Linked DNA regions of Homo sapiens. The protein of the gene in region 1 purifies or fractionates together with the protein of each later gene. This does not show direct contact. Each region holds a gene or a part of one and is shown in the gene's direction. Other genes may lie near its edges.

What was found.
Region 2: the proteins of SCML1 (region 1) and BLTP3B purify together in Homo sapiens (affinity purification with mass spectrometry, with the first as the bait; one large-scale study listed by BioGRID). This does not show direct contact.
Region 3: the proteins of SCML1 (region 1) and WDR55 purify together in Homo sapiens (affinity purification with mass spectrometry, with the first as the bait; one large-scale study listed by BioGRID). This does not show direct contact.
Region 4: the proteins of SCML1 (region 1) and CDADC1 purify together in Homo sapiens (affinity purification with mass spectrometry, with the first as the bait; one large-scale study listed by BioGRID). This does not show direct contact.

Annotation. Positions count from the first base shown.
Region 1 is NC_000023.11:17,747,482-17,751,153, forward strand, and holds part of SCML1 (sex comb on midleg-like protein 1), read left to right. Parts: intron 1-1,918; coding exon 1,919-2,023; intron 2,024-2,412; coding exon 2,413-2,812; intron 2,813-3,672. UniProt on the Homo sapiens protein: Putative Polycomb group (PcG) protein. PcG proteins act by forming multiprotein complexes, which are required to maintain the transcriptionally repressive state of homeotic genes throughout development.
Region 2 is NC_000012.12:100,136,281-100,139,952, reverse strand, and holds part of BLTP3B (bridge-like lipid transfer protein family member 3B), read left to right. Parts: intron 1-3,672. UniProt on the Homo sapiens protein: Tube-forming lipid transport protein which mediates the transfer of lipids between membranes at organelle contact sites. Required for retrograde traffic of vesicle clusters in the early endocytic pathway to the Golgi complex.
Region 3 is NC_000005.10:140,667,881-140,670,523, forward strand, and holds part of WDR55 (WD repeat-containing protein 55), read left to right. Parts: intron 1-353; coding exon 354-454; intron 455-534; coding exon 535-622; intron 623-731; coding exon 732-911; intron 912-1,010; coding exon 1,011-1,110; intron 1,111-1,198; coding exon 1,199-1,368; intron 1,369-1,452; coding exon 1,453-1,774; 3' UTR 1,775-2,643. UniProt on the Homo sapiens protein: Nucleolar protein that acts as a modulator of rRNA synthesis. Plays a central role during organogenesis.
Region 4 is NC_000013.11:49,275,280-49,278,951, forward strand, and holds part of CDADC1 (cytidine and dCMP deaminase domain-containing protein 1), read left to right. Parts: intron 1-3,070; coding exon 3,071-3,240; intron 3,241-3,672. UniProt on the Homo sapiens protein: Catalyzes the deamination of cytidine and deoxycytidine into uridine and deoxyuridine, respectively. May play an important role in testicular development and spermatogenesis.

The DNA of each region.
Region 1 (3,672 bases):
ACCTGGCTTCCTGTTTTTCTCTCTGGGTATTTATGAACCTGCTGTTCCTTCTATGCTGTAAGCCCTTCCATGCATCCTCACCTGGCGAGGGCCTTCTCATGTTTTAATTCTCACTTCAGACCTCACCTCCTCTGAAAAGGTCTCCGTGACTGCAGCCTGGGTTAGGACTGCTTTTCTGTGCAGGCTTAGCCTCCTGTTCCCACCTGTGTCACGCCACTGGTAATAACAATAGTAACATGAAGAGACCACTGAGCACTGTTGGACCGGGTGTAGTGTAGTGCTGTTACTGTTAGTATTAACCTAATACTATAGCAAGGTTCTCGTCCTCGAGAGAACCCTGAGAGAGCTTTTCATCCTGATTCCCTACATGAGGACACTGAAGCACAGAGAGGTTAAGTAACTTGCCCTGGGTCACACAGCCAATAAGTGGCTGGACTGTAGTATTTGACCCCAACCATGTTCCCCAAGAGCCTGCACTGTTTATCTCAGTGCCGCAGCCCTGTGGTTCTCACTAGGGCCATCAGAATCACCTGGGGGGCTTGTGAAAACATAGACCACTGCCCCCACTCTCAGAGTTCCAGGTTCCATAGGTCTGGGGTACAACCTGGCATTTGGCATTTCTGATGAGCTTACAGGTGATGTTGATGCTACCAGTCCGTGGACCACACTTTGCAAACCACTGTTCCAGGCTGTTTATCACTTTGTCTGCTGGAATCCTCTTTTTACTTGTCTCTCTCCCAGCTGAGATGGTAGTTCCTCTAGGACAGGCTGGAGTGCAGTGGCTCAGTCATGGCTCACTGCAGCCACAACTTCCCAGGCTCAGGTGATTCTCCCACCTCAGCCTTCCTAGTAGCATGGACTACAGGCATGCACCACCACGCTTGGCTGATTTTGTGTATTTTTGGTAGAGACGGGGGTTTCGCCATGTTGCCTAGGCTTGTCTCCAACTCCTGAGCTCAAGCGATTCACCTGCCTTAGCCTCCCAAAGTGCTGGGATTACAGGCATGAGCCACCGCACCCGGCCAGGAGCTTTTTTTTTCGGTCCATGTTCTCAATACCTAGCAAAGTAGTTCTGCCAGGTGGTAGGCCATCAATAAAGGTTTAGTTGAATGAGTGAATGAATGAATGAATGAATGAATGAGGAAATGTTTCTGGCCCTTTGTTTAAGTGTATTTTTCTTTGCCCAAAGTTTCTGTGTATTTCAAGAAGAATTCTCAGATTTTTATCAGCCTCCTATGTGCTTGATTGCAATGTTTCTGGCCCTTTGCTTAAGTGTATTTTTCTTTGCCCAAAGTCTCTGTGTATTTCAAGAAGAATTCTCAGACTTTTATCAGTCTCCTATGTGTTCGATTGGCGCGTAAGAGATGTGTACTTAACGGTTTTGTAAGATTAATTGCTGACTGCGTGATTTAAAAATACTTTGAAGCCAAAAGTCACATCTGTTATATTTGGTTCAGTGTTCTTTCTGGAGTGGAACACTCACTGTCTGTATATAATATAGACTTCATATTTGTACATATATGAACATATATGTTACATATGTATATCATAAAGTGAGTCTTTGTTCTTTTAGCAGATTTCTTTCCTAAAATAGCACCTTCCTTGATGTGCAGTGTCTTCATCATCAATGTGCTAGCATAGAGGCATTGTGGGACATTCATTCACCAGCATTAGAGCTTCCTCAATTCCTACATGGAGTAGAGCAGGGGAGGGGACTACTCTAGCTCAGCCTGTTGGCTCTGTGTCACCTACAGCCAGGCCTTGAATAGGAGCAAGACATTTCTGATGGCTTGAGAACTTTTGTTGTGTCTAGCAGTTAACATTTGACTTAATGGTATTTTCACGTTACTTTTCTTTGAAATAAAAAATTATATTTTACATTGTATACCAATTATATGACTACATTGTATTATAATAGGTTATATATGATGCTCTGCAAAACCTGGATAAGAAGATTGATGTGATTCGTAGAAAGGTTTCAAAAATCCAACGTTTCCATGCGAGATCCCTGTGGACAAATCATGTAAGTGTTATAAAAAACATTTTTACAACTGTGATAAACCTCTGGTTTGTAAAGATGCCAATGAGCTAGAAGTGAGAGAGTACCAGTATCTGTGTGAGATTAGCAAGGCATGTCTATACTTGTAACAGTAGATGGAGACTAAACTCTGTTGGGAGAACGCTGAAGTTTAGGTTTGATAATTTATGATGCTGCCTATTTTTATGTTTGTAATTATAATGTGTAAAATACAATTAAAATGTAGGATTGAAGAATTATATAATCAAAAGGGACCATTTATTTTTAATAATGTAAAGCAATGTTGCATGGAAAATAAGTATTAATGTATTTGCTACTAATTTTATTTACTTTTTTACTCACTGTTGGTTTATGCTGTGTTTGTGTGATTTCAGAAGCGATATGGATATAAAAAGCATTCTTACCGGCTTGTTAAAAAGCTTAAACTCCAGAAAATGAAGAAAAATGAGGTTTACGAGACATTCTCCTACCCTGAAAGTTACAGCCCCACTTTACCAGTGTCAAGGCGTGAGAATAATTCCCCGAGCAACCTTCCAAGGCCATCCTTTTGCATGGAAGAATACCAGCGAGCTGAGCTGGAGGAGGACCCGATCCTCAGCCGCACTCCGAGTCCAGTGCATCCCTCAGATTTCTCTGAGCATAATTGTCAGCCGTATTATGCATCTGATGGTGCAACGTATGGTTCTTCTTCAGGGCTCTGCCTTGGCAACCCTCGGGCTGACAGCATCCACAACACTTACTCAACTGACCATGCTTCTGCAGCACCACCTTCAGGTATGCTGGCCCAGGGAGAGCCCAATTTGGTACATGCCCCTGAGATGATGAGTTACTCAGCTTTGATGGAGAATAGGTATACTGGATCATCTCTCTGCTTCCCTTCTGGTTTGGTGAGTTTGAAATGCCATATTTACAAGTAGCACTATTTGACCTATATTTATCAACATCCTTGATGCAAACTAGTGGAAGCTGTTCGTTTCCTATTTTGAGGGCTGGTTTTAGGTGATATTCAGAATGATGACTAACATTTATTCAATGCATATTATGTGCAAGGCACTGCACCAATCAGCTGACATGCCTCTTCTCCACTTATACTCATAATGACCCCATGGTTTTGGCACATTTATTACGCCATCCCCACGATCACAGAGCTGGTGAGTAGCACTTCTAGAACTCTGCCCCATTGTGCTTTTCCAAATCTTCTATTTTTATTTACCCTTTCCCTAGATAAATAAAAAACACTCCTGATATGGCAAGAGCCCAGATGGTAGGGAAGAAAGGGTATGTTTTTGGCTAATTCACACACACAAAAAGATCAAATTGTGTTGATGGTCCTGGTTGGAGAAACAAATTTTCCTAACTAATTACAAAACCCACTTTAGTCATCACACACTAATTTTAGGGAGTCTAACACTGTGGGTGAGTAAAAGGATACTTGTCAGTACACAAAGAAATTTCAACACAACTTAGTGTAGAGCATAGCTAAAACTTTCTGAAGTATGAGCAGTTAAACTGTCTCATATCTCAGTTATTTTTTAAACATATAAACCTTTGACCAAAATCTCTATTACTATGCAATTAAACATGAAAGAGGAATTAAATAAAATGTTAGTTACTTCTGACCTAGTTCAGCAGAA
Region 2 (3,672 bases), on another chromosome or scaffold:
CAACCCATTGCACCTTCTCAAAGGTGACCTTTCCTGACCACAGAGTTTAAAATTGTGAGCCCCCATATTGCCAGTCCTCTTGCTTGCATTATTTTTCTCCATAGCACTCATGCTTGTCTGTCGTACATATTTATTTCTTTATGTATTTTTGTCTTTCTCCACTTAAATGTAGACTCTATGAGAGCAGGGATTTTTGTCTTGAGGCTGGCATAAAGTAGGTACTCAACAACTATTTGTTGCATGAATGTGGATACATAACATGAATGAGCTTACTTTCTCTTACATTGCTTTTTTTTACTGAGGCAAGACTACTGCCAATATTCTTATAGATTTGGGAATGACCAGTTTCCCTGTGGCTTTAGGAGGCAGTGAGTAATTGAATCATTAAATAAATGTGGTGCCTTTGGATCCTGGAAAATAACTAGGAAAATGACCTAGTTCTTACAGGGGTTTATATGAGGGGTCTTCCGGTAAGGAAATAACCCAGTTATTGTATGGGGGGAGGAGTTCTGCCAGTAAGGAGGAAGACTGTGAACCAACATGAGAAAGAGCTCTCATTTTTAGCCTTGAGGTTGAAATATAGTGCAGTTGCAAGATTAAAACCATCTTTGCCTGGATGAAGGGACTTGAGAAGCTGGTATGTTGGGAAAGTATGGAAGAGGAATTGTTCTTAAGAGATTAACAGATTCTTTAACTCAATGCTAAACTATTTGAGAACTGTAAATCTATATACTTGTTCCTTGCCTAATTGTTAGTTTGTATTCCAAACATCTCTCCAGTTGTTAATAAAAAGTTTATCTACTTGAAGAATCTGAAATGAGGACAAGGAGGTGTGTTGGTGGGATGGGGGAGCTTAGAGTAGTGACATTTTTCCAGAGTGAAACAGGAAAAGCTTTTGAAGGAGAAACTGCCCCGATTTTTCAAACTGTAATAGGACTGAATGTATTTTGGGAGGGTTTTCTAGGAGAGTAGTTTTTCACATGGGAATGGAAACTTCTAAAGAGAAGTCGTAACAAATGTGAGAAAGGAAATAAAAGCAGAAGCTACCTTTCAGCTCAAGACATTAGTGTGTGTGTGTGTGTGTGTATGTGTATGTGTATACACATGTACACACCTGTGAACAGGCGCTTGCAAATCGGCAAAGTGGACGTATATTTAATTAAGCCAGGACCTGAAAAGGGGTAGGGAAGTTTTGGATACAGACACTCTCTTCTCCTTCGCTCCCTTAGGCTAAGGGCATACTGTGCTCTGCACAAGGTTTCCTGGGAGTGGGAGTTGACTGGGCAGACATTCACCTCACCTCGGTGGAGTCATCGTATAGTTTAAAGCAGCAGTTGTCAACCAGGGTCAGTTTGTCTTGAGGTGACATTTGGCAGTGTCTGGAGATATTTTTAATTGTCAAGACTTGGAGGGGAGGGTAATACTACTGCCATCTAGTGAATAGAGGCCAGGGATGCTGCTAGACGTTCTACATTGCACAGCATATTCCCTCACAACAAATAATTATTTGCCCAAATGTCAGTAGTTCCGAGATTGAGAAACCAGCTTAAAGTGTACAGGTGTGTGTCGTATGATTGAGCTAGGGTTCTGTGCTAGTAAAGTTGTTTTGCCTGCAAACATCAGAAAGCTGATCTATTTAAGTAAAAAGGGAAATGTAACAGAAAGCAGAAGAATATCTGAACAACCAAATCAAGGAAAGAACAGGAACCAGCTAGCTCCTAGAATCTCATTGGAAGAGTTCTTGGACCTTCCTCTTAAAGTAGCAGCAGGGTTTTTTAACCTTGGCATCATTGGCATTTTGAAATAGATAGTTCTTTGTTGTGAAGGCTGTTCTGTGCATTGTAGGATGTTTAATGTCTCCAGACATTGCCAAATGTCTCATAGGAGGCAAAATTACTCCTGGTTGGGAGCTACAGCTTTAGAGTGCTGGCCTATCTTCCATAATTCCCAGTCTTTGATCTCTCCTGTCAGGTTTCAGAATCCCCTAGAGAGAAAGCCTTTGTGACCCAGTTTTGTCTACCCATGGTTCAATTAGCAATGGCAAAGGGTTGTACAGCAAAAATATGGTAATGGAGAGGGCTATTTTGAGTTAGGCTTGTTGCTCCATTAGTCATCTGTAATAGGCAGTGCACTAAATTAGATTTCCAAGGGCCTCATTTGCTACATTAAGGAAATTGAACTTTATCCTGGGGGTGAGGAGTGACTACTAATAAAGGTAAGAGGGATATGCTCATTAAAGCAGTCTTATTTTTGAAGTCTAGGGTTTAGGAGCAATATCTGGGGTGGAAATACGGAGTCTACAAATGGACTCTGAGTAACTTAAGTAGAAAATGGGGCCAGGTGTGGTGGCTCATGCCTGTAATCCAAGCACTTTGGGAGGCCAAGTCAGGCAGATCACTTGAGCCCAGCAGTTTGAGATCAGTCTGGGAAACATGATGAAAACTCTGTCTCTACCCCAAATACAAAAATTAGCCAGTCTCATAACCTGGTCTCAAAAAAGAAAAAAAGAATATTCATTATGGACATTCAGAAGGGTTAAACACATGCAGGATTTGGTGCCTGAATGGCAAAGTGATGAGAGGGATTAGAGTGCCTCACTTTGTGTTGATGGGATTGGCCACTAGATTGAGGATATATAAGGAAGGGGAGGAGAGGGCGGTAGCTGATAGCCTGGAGAGAAAAGGAAAGAACCGTCAAAGGATTGGGAATGCTATCTAGGTGGAAAAGTAATGGAGTAAAGGAATGAGATAATTGGAAGGGTTGGAGATTTTGTCTGAAACTGTCACATTGAAGTTTAAGATTTTAGAAGTGAAGTAGATCTGGTTTAGGAAAAGCTATCTGAGGCTGGGCGCCGTGGCTTATGCCTATAATCCTACCACTTTGGGAGGCTGAGGCGGGTGGATCACCTGAGGTCGGGAGTTCGAGACCAGTCTGACCAACACGGTGAAACCCTGTCTCTACTAAAAATGCAAAATTAGCTGGGTGTGGTGGCCCATGCCTGTAATCCCAGCTACTCGGGAGGCTGAGACAGGAGAATTGCTTGAGCCCGGGAGGTGGAAGTTGCAGTGAGCTGAGATCGGGCCATTGCACTCCAGCCTGGGCAACAAGAGCGAAACTCCATCTCAAAAAAAATAAAAAAAAAGAAAAAAAAGAAAAGAAAAGCTATCTGATATGGCCATAGAAGTGAGTTGCTGAAGAAAAGTTAAGGTGCATATAATTGGAGATCAATACTGCTAGGTCTAAAATCTTTCCAGTACTGACCATTCCTAAAAGGAAATGCAGTGTAGCTTATTTAGTCTGCCAGACATTATTTTTTCAAATGCTAACTTCACATCATTACTGATAGGCTAATATTTGTATCATAAACTTTTATGGTAAAGCTCAGTAAATAATTTTTGAGAGTTTATGTATTTAACGTTTTTGAGCACATATATATATATGCCACATAGTGGGCATTAGAGATACAAAGATGAGTAAGACATGGCTTCAGTTTGTGGGAAGCTTCAGCGATTCCTATTCTAATATAAGAAGCATGAGTAGGATCACTAACTGTAACCTATTTCTAAATTGGACTACTTGTCTGGCATTGCGGGTGATGTGAAAAAGGAAGAAAAAAATAAAAAAAATTTTATTGCTATATGAAATTTGTTAGATTTTGCAACTAGGAAAAAA
Region 3 (2,643 bases), on another chromosome or scaffold:
TAACTTCTGGGGCTGGTCTTTTGTCATTGATGTAACAAATATCTCCTCCACAGTGGTCCAGACCCAATCTTTGTCCAGGCTGGGGCTTTCAAAGATGATAAAGAGGGGTTGGGTGGGATCACAAAGAAATCTTGCGCAAATATACCTTGAACTAACATATATTGAAAAAAGCAGGACCTAACATTTCAAACTCACTGAAAATGGAGAAATGAGATGGTAAACTTTTTGGGCTTAGAGGTGTAGAAGCAGGAACTCTTAGGTAGGTGGGAAGGCTGCTCTGTCTAGTTGGTCTCTGCACTCAATGCAACCCAGGCTGGGTCTGGAGTCATTTACCCTCCTTGCCCTCTCCCCAGCTTTTCCTACTCTTGCCAAGAGGGAGAAACCAAGGAGCTCTGGTCATCAGGTCACCATCTCAAGGCCTGCCGAGCTGTGGCCTTCTCTGAAGATGGGCAGAGTGAGTACTGGGGAAGACAACCAGCAATGTGGTGGAAGGGAGCAGTGAGCAGCACCATGACCTGGGCACCTTTTCCCCAGAGCTCATTACTGTCTCCAAGGACAAAGCCATCCATGTTCTAGATGTGGAGCAGGGCCAACTGGAAAGACGTGTTTCCAAGGCTCATGGGTAAGGAGAGCAGCCAATTCTGTGTATGTGCATGGAGGTGAAGGGTAAGGACCAGGAGGTCCCCACTGGGACAGAGATGCTCCAAGAAGTTCTACATCTGTGTCTCTAGTGCCCCCATCAATAGTCTTCTGCTGGTGGATGAGAATGTTCTGGCCACTGGGGATGACACAGGTGGTATCTGTCTCTGGGACCAGCGGAAGGAGGGCCCCTTAATGGATATGAGGCAACATGAAGAGTACATCGCAGACATGGCTCTGGATCCAGCCAAAAAGCTGCTGCTGACAGCCAGGTACAACTTCAAAGCTGCCTTGCCTCCCCTCCCCTCCCTGTGTGAAATGTCTTCCTCAAATAGACCTTGCGTCTAAGCCTACTGCTCTACTCTCTACAGCGGGGATGGCTGCCTTGGCATCTTCAACATTAAGAGGCGTCGGTTTGAGCTGCTCTCAGAACCTCAGTCTGGGGACCTGACCTCTGTCACTCTCATGAAAGTACAGCTGGTTATGGTGGGATGGAGGGGTGTGTGCTGGGGGCTTAGTCTGAGGCAGCTTCCACATTGTTTTCTCTATTTCCCTGCAGTGGGGGAAGAAGGTAGCCTGTGGCTCCAGTGAAGGTACCATCTACCTCTTCAATTGGAATGGCTTTGGGGCCACAAGTGACCGCTTTGCCCTGAGAGCTGAATCTATCGACTGCATGGTTCCAGTCACCGAGAGTCTGCTGTGTACTGGCTCCACTGATGGAGTCATCAGGTGAGGGAAGCCTGGACAGCCCTTAGGTCACAGGAAGGGCAGACCCAGCTAGCCAGTACTCAACACTGTTCTTTCCCTGCCCAGGGCTGTGAACATCCTACCGAACCGAGTGGTGGGCAGTGTGGGCCAGCACACTGGGGAGCCTGTGGAGGAGCTGGCCCTCTCCCACTGTGGCCGCTTCCTGGCCAGTAGTGGCCATGACCAGCGCCTCAAGTTTTGGGACATGGCCCAGCTGCGAGCTGTGGTGGTGGATGACTACCGTCGGCGCAAAAAAAAGGGAGGACCACTGCGGGCTCTGAGCAGCAAGACTTGGAGCACCGATGACTTCTTCGCAGGACTGAGGGAAGAGGGAGAAGACTCCATGGCTCAGGAAGAAAAGGAGGAGACTGGGGATGACAGTGACTGAAGGAATGAATTGAATCTTGAGACGGGTCCTCACCAGGCAAGAGTCTTGCTTATTGGGCTGCATCCCCAGAGAGGATATGAATTATTTTTTGAAAAGACAGGGTTTTGCCATCGTCCAGGCTGGAGTGCGCTGGCTTGATCTTGGCTCACTGCAGCCTCAATGTCCCCAGGCTCAGATTGTCCTTCCACCTTAGCCTCTGGAGCAGCTGGGACTACAGGTGTGCACTACCACACCAGGCCAATTTTTGTTTTTTTTTTTTGGTAGAAACGGGTCTGTTTTGCCCAGGCTGGTCTTCAACTCCTGGACTCAAATGATCCACCTGCCTCTGCTTCCCAAAGTGCTGGGATTACAGGCACGAGCCACCACACCTGGCCAAAAAAATTTATATTTTTTGAGACAAGGTCTCACTCTGTCACCCAGGCTGGAGTACAGTGGGTTGATCATGGCTCACTGCATCCTTGACTTCCTGGGCTCAAGTGATCCACCTCAGCCTGCCTGGTAGCTGAGACTTAACAGGCATCTGCCACCATGCTTGACTAATTTTTGTGATTTTTTTTTGGTAGAGACCAGGGGTTTCACTATGTTGACCAAGCTGGTCTTGGAACTCCTGGGCTCAAGTGATCCTCCTGCCTTGGCCTCCCAAAATGCTGGGATTACAGGCATGAGCCACTGTGCCTGGCTGGATATGAAATTTTTTTTTTTTTTTTTTTTGAGACAGGGTTTCGCTCTTGTTGCCAGGGCTGGAGTGCAATGGCGTGATCTTGGCTCACTGCAACCTCCGCCTCCCGGGTTCAAGCAATTCTCCTGCCTCAGCCTCCCAAGTAGCTGGGATTACAGGTGTCTGCCACCATGCCAGGCTAATTTTTGTA
Region 4 (3,672 bases), on another chromosome or scaffold:
TTTGCCATGTTGACCAGGCTGGTCTTGAACTCCTGGCCTCAAGCAGTCCACCCTCTTCTGCCTCCCAAAGTGCTGGGATCACAGGTGTGAGCCACCATGCCTGCCCTGAATATTCTTAATATTAATATTAATAATGTTAAAATTCTTGAAGATTAGGAGGATATCATCAGGCAGAGCAAGTTAATGGGACCAGGAGAATAACACACAGAGACTGGGGTGAGAGAGAGAATATGGGAAAACGCATTTGATTTGGCACATAGAGTAAGCAACAAAGTGGACGGGACCATGAAGAACTCTATATTCCATGTAAAGATTTTGGACTTTATCCTGGCAGTGACATACTATAGCACAGCACTAACCAGTAGAGAGAAAAGGCAAGGCTCAAACTGAATTTTAAATTTTCTAGGTGTTATATATATATATATATATATATATATATATATATATAGAGAGAGAGAGAGAGAGAGAGAGAGAGAGAGAGAGAGAGAGAGAGAGAGAGAGAGAGAGAGAGAGAGAGTCTCACTCTGTTGCCAGGCTGGAGTGCAGTGGTGCAGTCTGAGCTCACTGCAACCTCTGCCTCCTGGGTTCAAGCAATTCTCCTGTCTCAGCCTCCCCAGTAGCTGGGACTACAGGTGTGTGCCACCACACCCAGCTAATTTTTGTGTTTTTAGTAGAGATGGGGTTTCACCATGTTGTCCAGAATGGTCTCAATCTCTTGACTTCGTGATCCACCTGCCTTGGCCTCCCAAAGTGCTGGGATTACAGGTGTGAACCACTGCAACCAGCTGGAGCCATGTTTTTAAAAGGAAGACAGATAAATTAATTTTAAGAAAATATTTAATCATGTAATCAATAAAAAATTATTGATGAAATATTCTGCATTTAAAAAATATTAAATCTTCAAAATTCTATGTGTATTTTACACCTGCAGCACCTCTCAATCTAGACTAACCACATGTGGCTAGTGGCGACTGTATGGGACAGTGCATTCCAAGAATGTTCTAAGTGGGGAAATGATTTGATCAGATTTGCATTATAAATAGAATGAGGTAGGGCTAGACAGAAAATAAGGAGATTAATAAAAAGAGATGAGGACTTGGAGATGTGGGGATGGGTTAGGAGGCTAGAATCAAGAGATATTTAGTAACTATATAGCTGACTGAAAGGTGAGCCTACATTTTGCCTCAGGGACTTCACAGAAAGTAATCTGACAATTTGCTTTGATGTTTCACAAACTCCTCAAGTTCACTCATCCAGTATCTTCCCTGCTAACCTCCTCCCTCATCAGTGGTCACCATCTTGTCTGTTACTGTACACATACAATCACCTAGCACAATGGATTCCACCTTCAAAATACCTCTTGACTCTACTTACCTGTACCCCAACTGTTAACTCCTACTAGAATACTAGGCTCCTCTGCCAGAAATTCCTCAGCACTCTGTACAACTTGTCTGTGACATTCATCACAGTTAAAGTTATCTGTTCAATTTCTTACCCTCCCCAGACTAGAAGGCTCATGAGGGTAGGGACTCTCTGTCTTGTTTACAGTTGTATTCCAGCACCTAGCATAGGTCTAACTGGTGGTTGGAACTCTCATTTGTGTGTACATGAATGCTCAGCAGACTTTTGGCTTAACATCTGGTTGTTAATGATTTTGTGGAGAATGTCAGTTTCTAGTTATCTCTAGAGTAGGCCAGCAGGCAGCACGGTGAAATGGAAAGACACATGGCTTAGAGTCAAGTAATCTGGGCTTGAATTCTGGCTATGTTACTTACTCATTTTGTGACCCTAGACAATTAATCACTCTTGTCCTCAGTTTCCTTATCTGTAAAACAGTAATATTAATAGTATCACTCTTTAGGTTGTTTCAAGAATTGATCAAATGAAATGATCCATGTAAAACTCAGTATGGCTGGGTGCAGTGGCTCATGCCTGTAATCCAGCACTTTGGGAGGCGGGGGTGGGAGGATTCCTTGAGCCCAGGAGTCCAAGACAATCCTGGGCATCATGGTGAGACCCCGTTGCTACAAAAAAAGAAAAAATTAGCCAGGCATAGTGACATACGCCTGTGGTCCCAGCTACTTGGGAGGCTGAGATGGGAGGATGACTTGAGCCCAGGAAGTCAAACCTGGGTGACAGAGTGAGACCCTGTCTCTAAATAAATAAATAAATAAATAACTCAGCATGATGTTTGACATTTAGTAAATGTTCAAACAGATTTATTAATGAGATAATATTTTGTTTGCAGGCTTTTGTTGGCTCACTATTACATGATTTTTATGAAGCTGCTACAGTAATGAGTCTGTTGATATTATCATGAGTAATTATAATATATTGAAATTTAATGAGTTTTATAGCATATTCCAAAAAACTATTACACACACATTACTAATATTTCATTCTAATAATTGATAAAGCATTCATATTAACTACTATTTCTCTTTAAAAGAGAAATAAGAGCCATTGAAGTAAGAAGTTCTATAATAATATGCATATAATAGAGGCTTAATAAATACTGAAGATGAAAATGCATTTTTTATTTTCCAACTAAATCACAATAGCACATTTTTAGCCCAACAGAAATTTTCTGTTTAAAGTATTTAAAAGTTTTTGACTTGCTAACCAGTAGCATGGCACAGAGCACATAAGAAATTAACAATCACTTGTTGAGTACCTGCTATGTACAGAATACTCGAACATGTTGAAGGGATGGAAAAGAAATATATAACATGGTTTCTGCTCTCCAGGATCTATAATTTATTTGGGAAGTAATATCTGAATCAAGTGAAATAATTTGTTAGTTAAGTAAGATAGTATTTAATTAATTGCAAAAAACAAGGACTTCCTTGAGATTATAGATTAGAGAGGTGGTTGGCCTTCTTGGAATTTAGCTTTGACAAGATCACACTGCAGTAGGAGTATCTGGTATTATATTTTTTGATAGCTCAGTTTACTGTAGAAAATTGAATGAATATTCATTATACAAAGTATGATAGCAAGCTTCAAAAATACATTGCAAAGTGTCTTTTCAGAATGTTGAAACTAACCATTGGTTTGCTCACTCTCGTAGAGAAGTTGTGATGGAACAGGTGCCATGTACTTTGTAGGATGTGGTTACAATGCTTTTCCTGTTGGATCTGAGTATGCTGACTTCCCACACATGGATGACAAGCAGAAAGACAGAGAAATAAGGAAATTCAGATACATCATACATGCGGAACAGAATGCCTTGACATTTAGGTATGAAATCCTTCTTGGTGTACTTTTCTTTAAAATGTAGCAAGGGTTGGTTGAAATTAATTTTCTTATAATTGTAATTTATTTCCTTTTTCAAATTCCAAGAAAGTTTCCTTTCAGAAGTATAACTTTGGTAAAGCTTGGTCCTCACTGCCAGACCTGAAGCTATGACCTGACCTGAGGTCATCGCCTCTTCAGGTCTTCCCAATTTGTTGAGCATGTCTTTTTTTCCCTTGCCTCTCTCCAATATGAAACTGCTTTAAGTTTATCCTTTGGGATCTTGCTCAGCCTCTCATATTTCTGGATGTTAAGGCTCCTTTGTTTTCTAAATCTGGAGCACGCATTTATTAATACAGTTACACGCCACAGAAAGACATTTTGAGCAACGATGGACTACATGCACAACGTGTTCCCATAAGATTATAACAGAGCTGA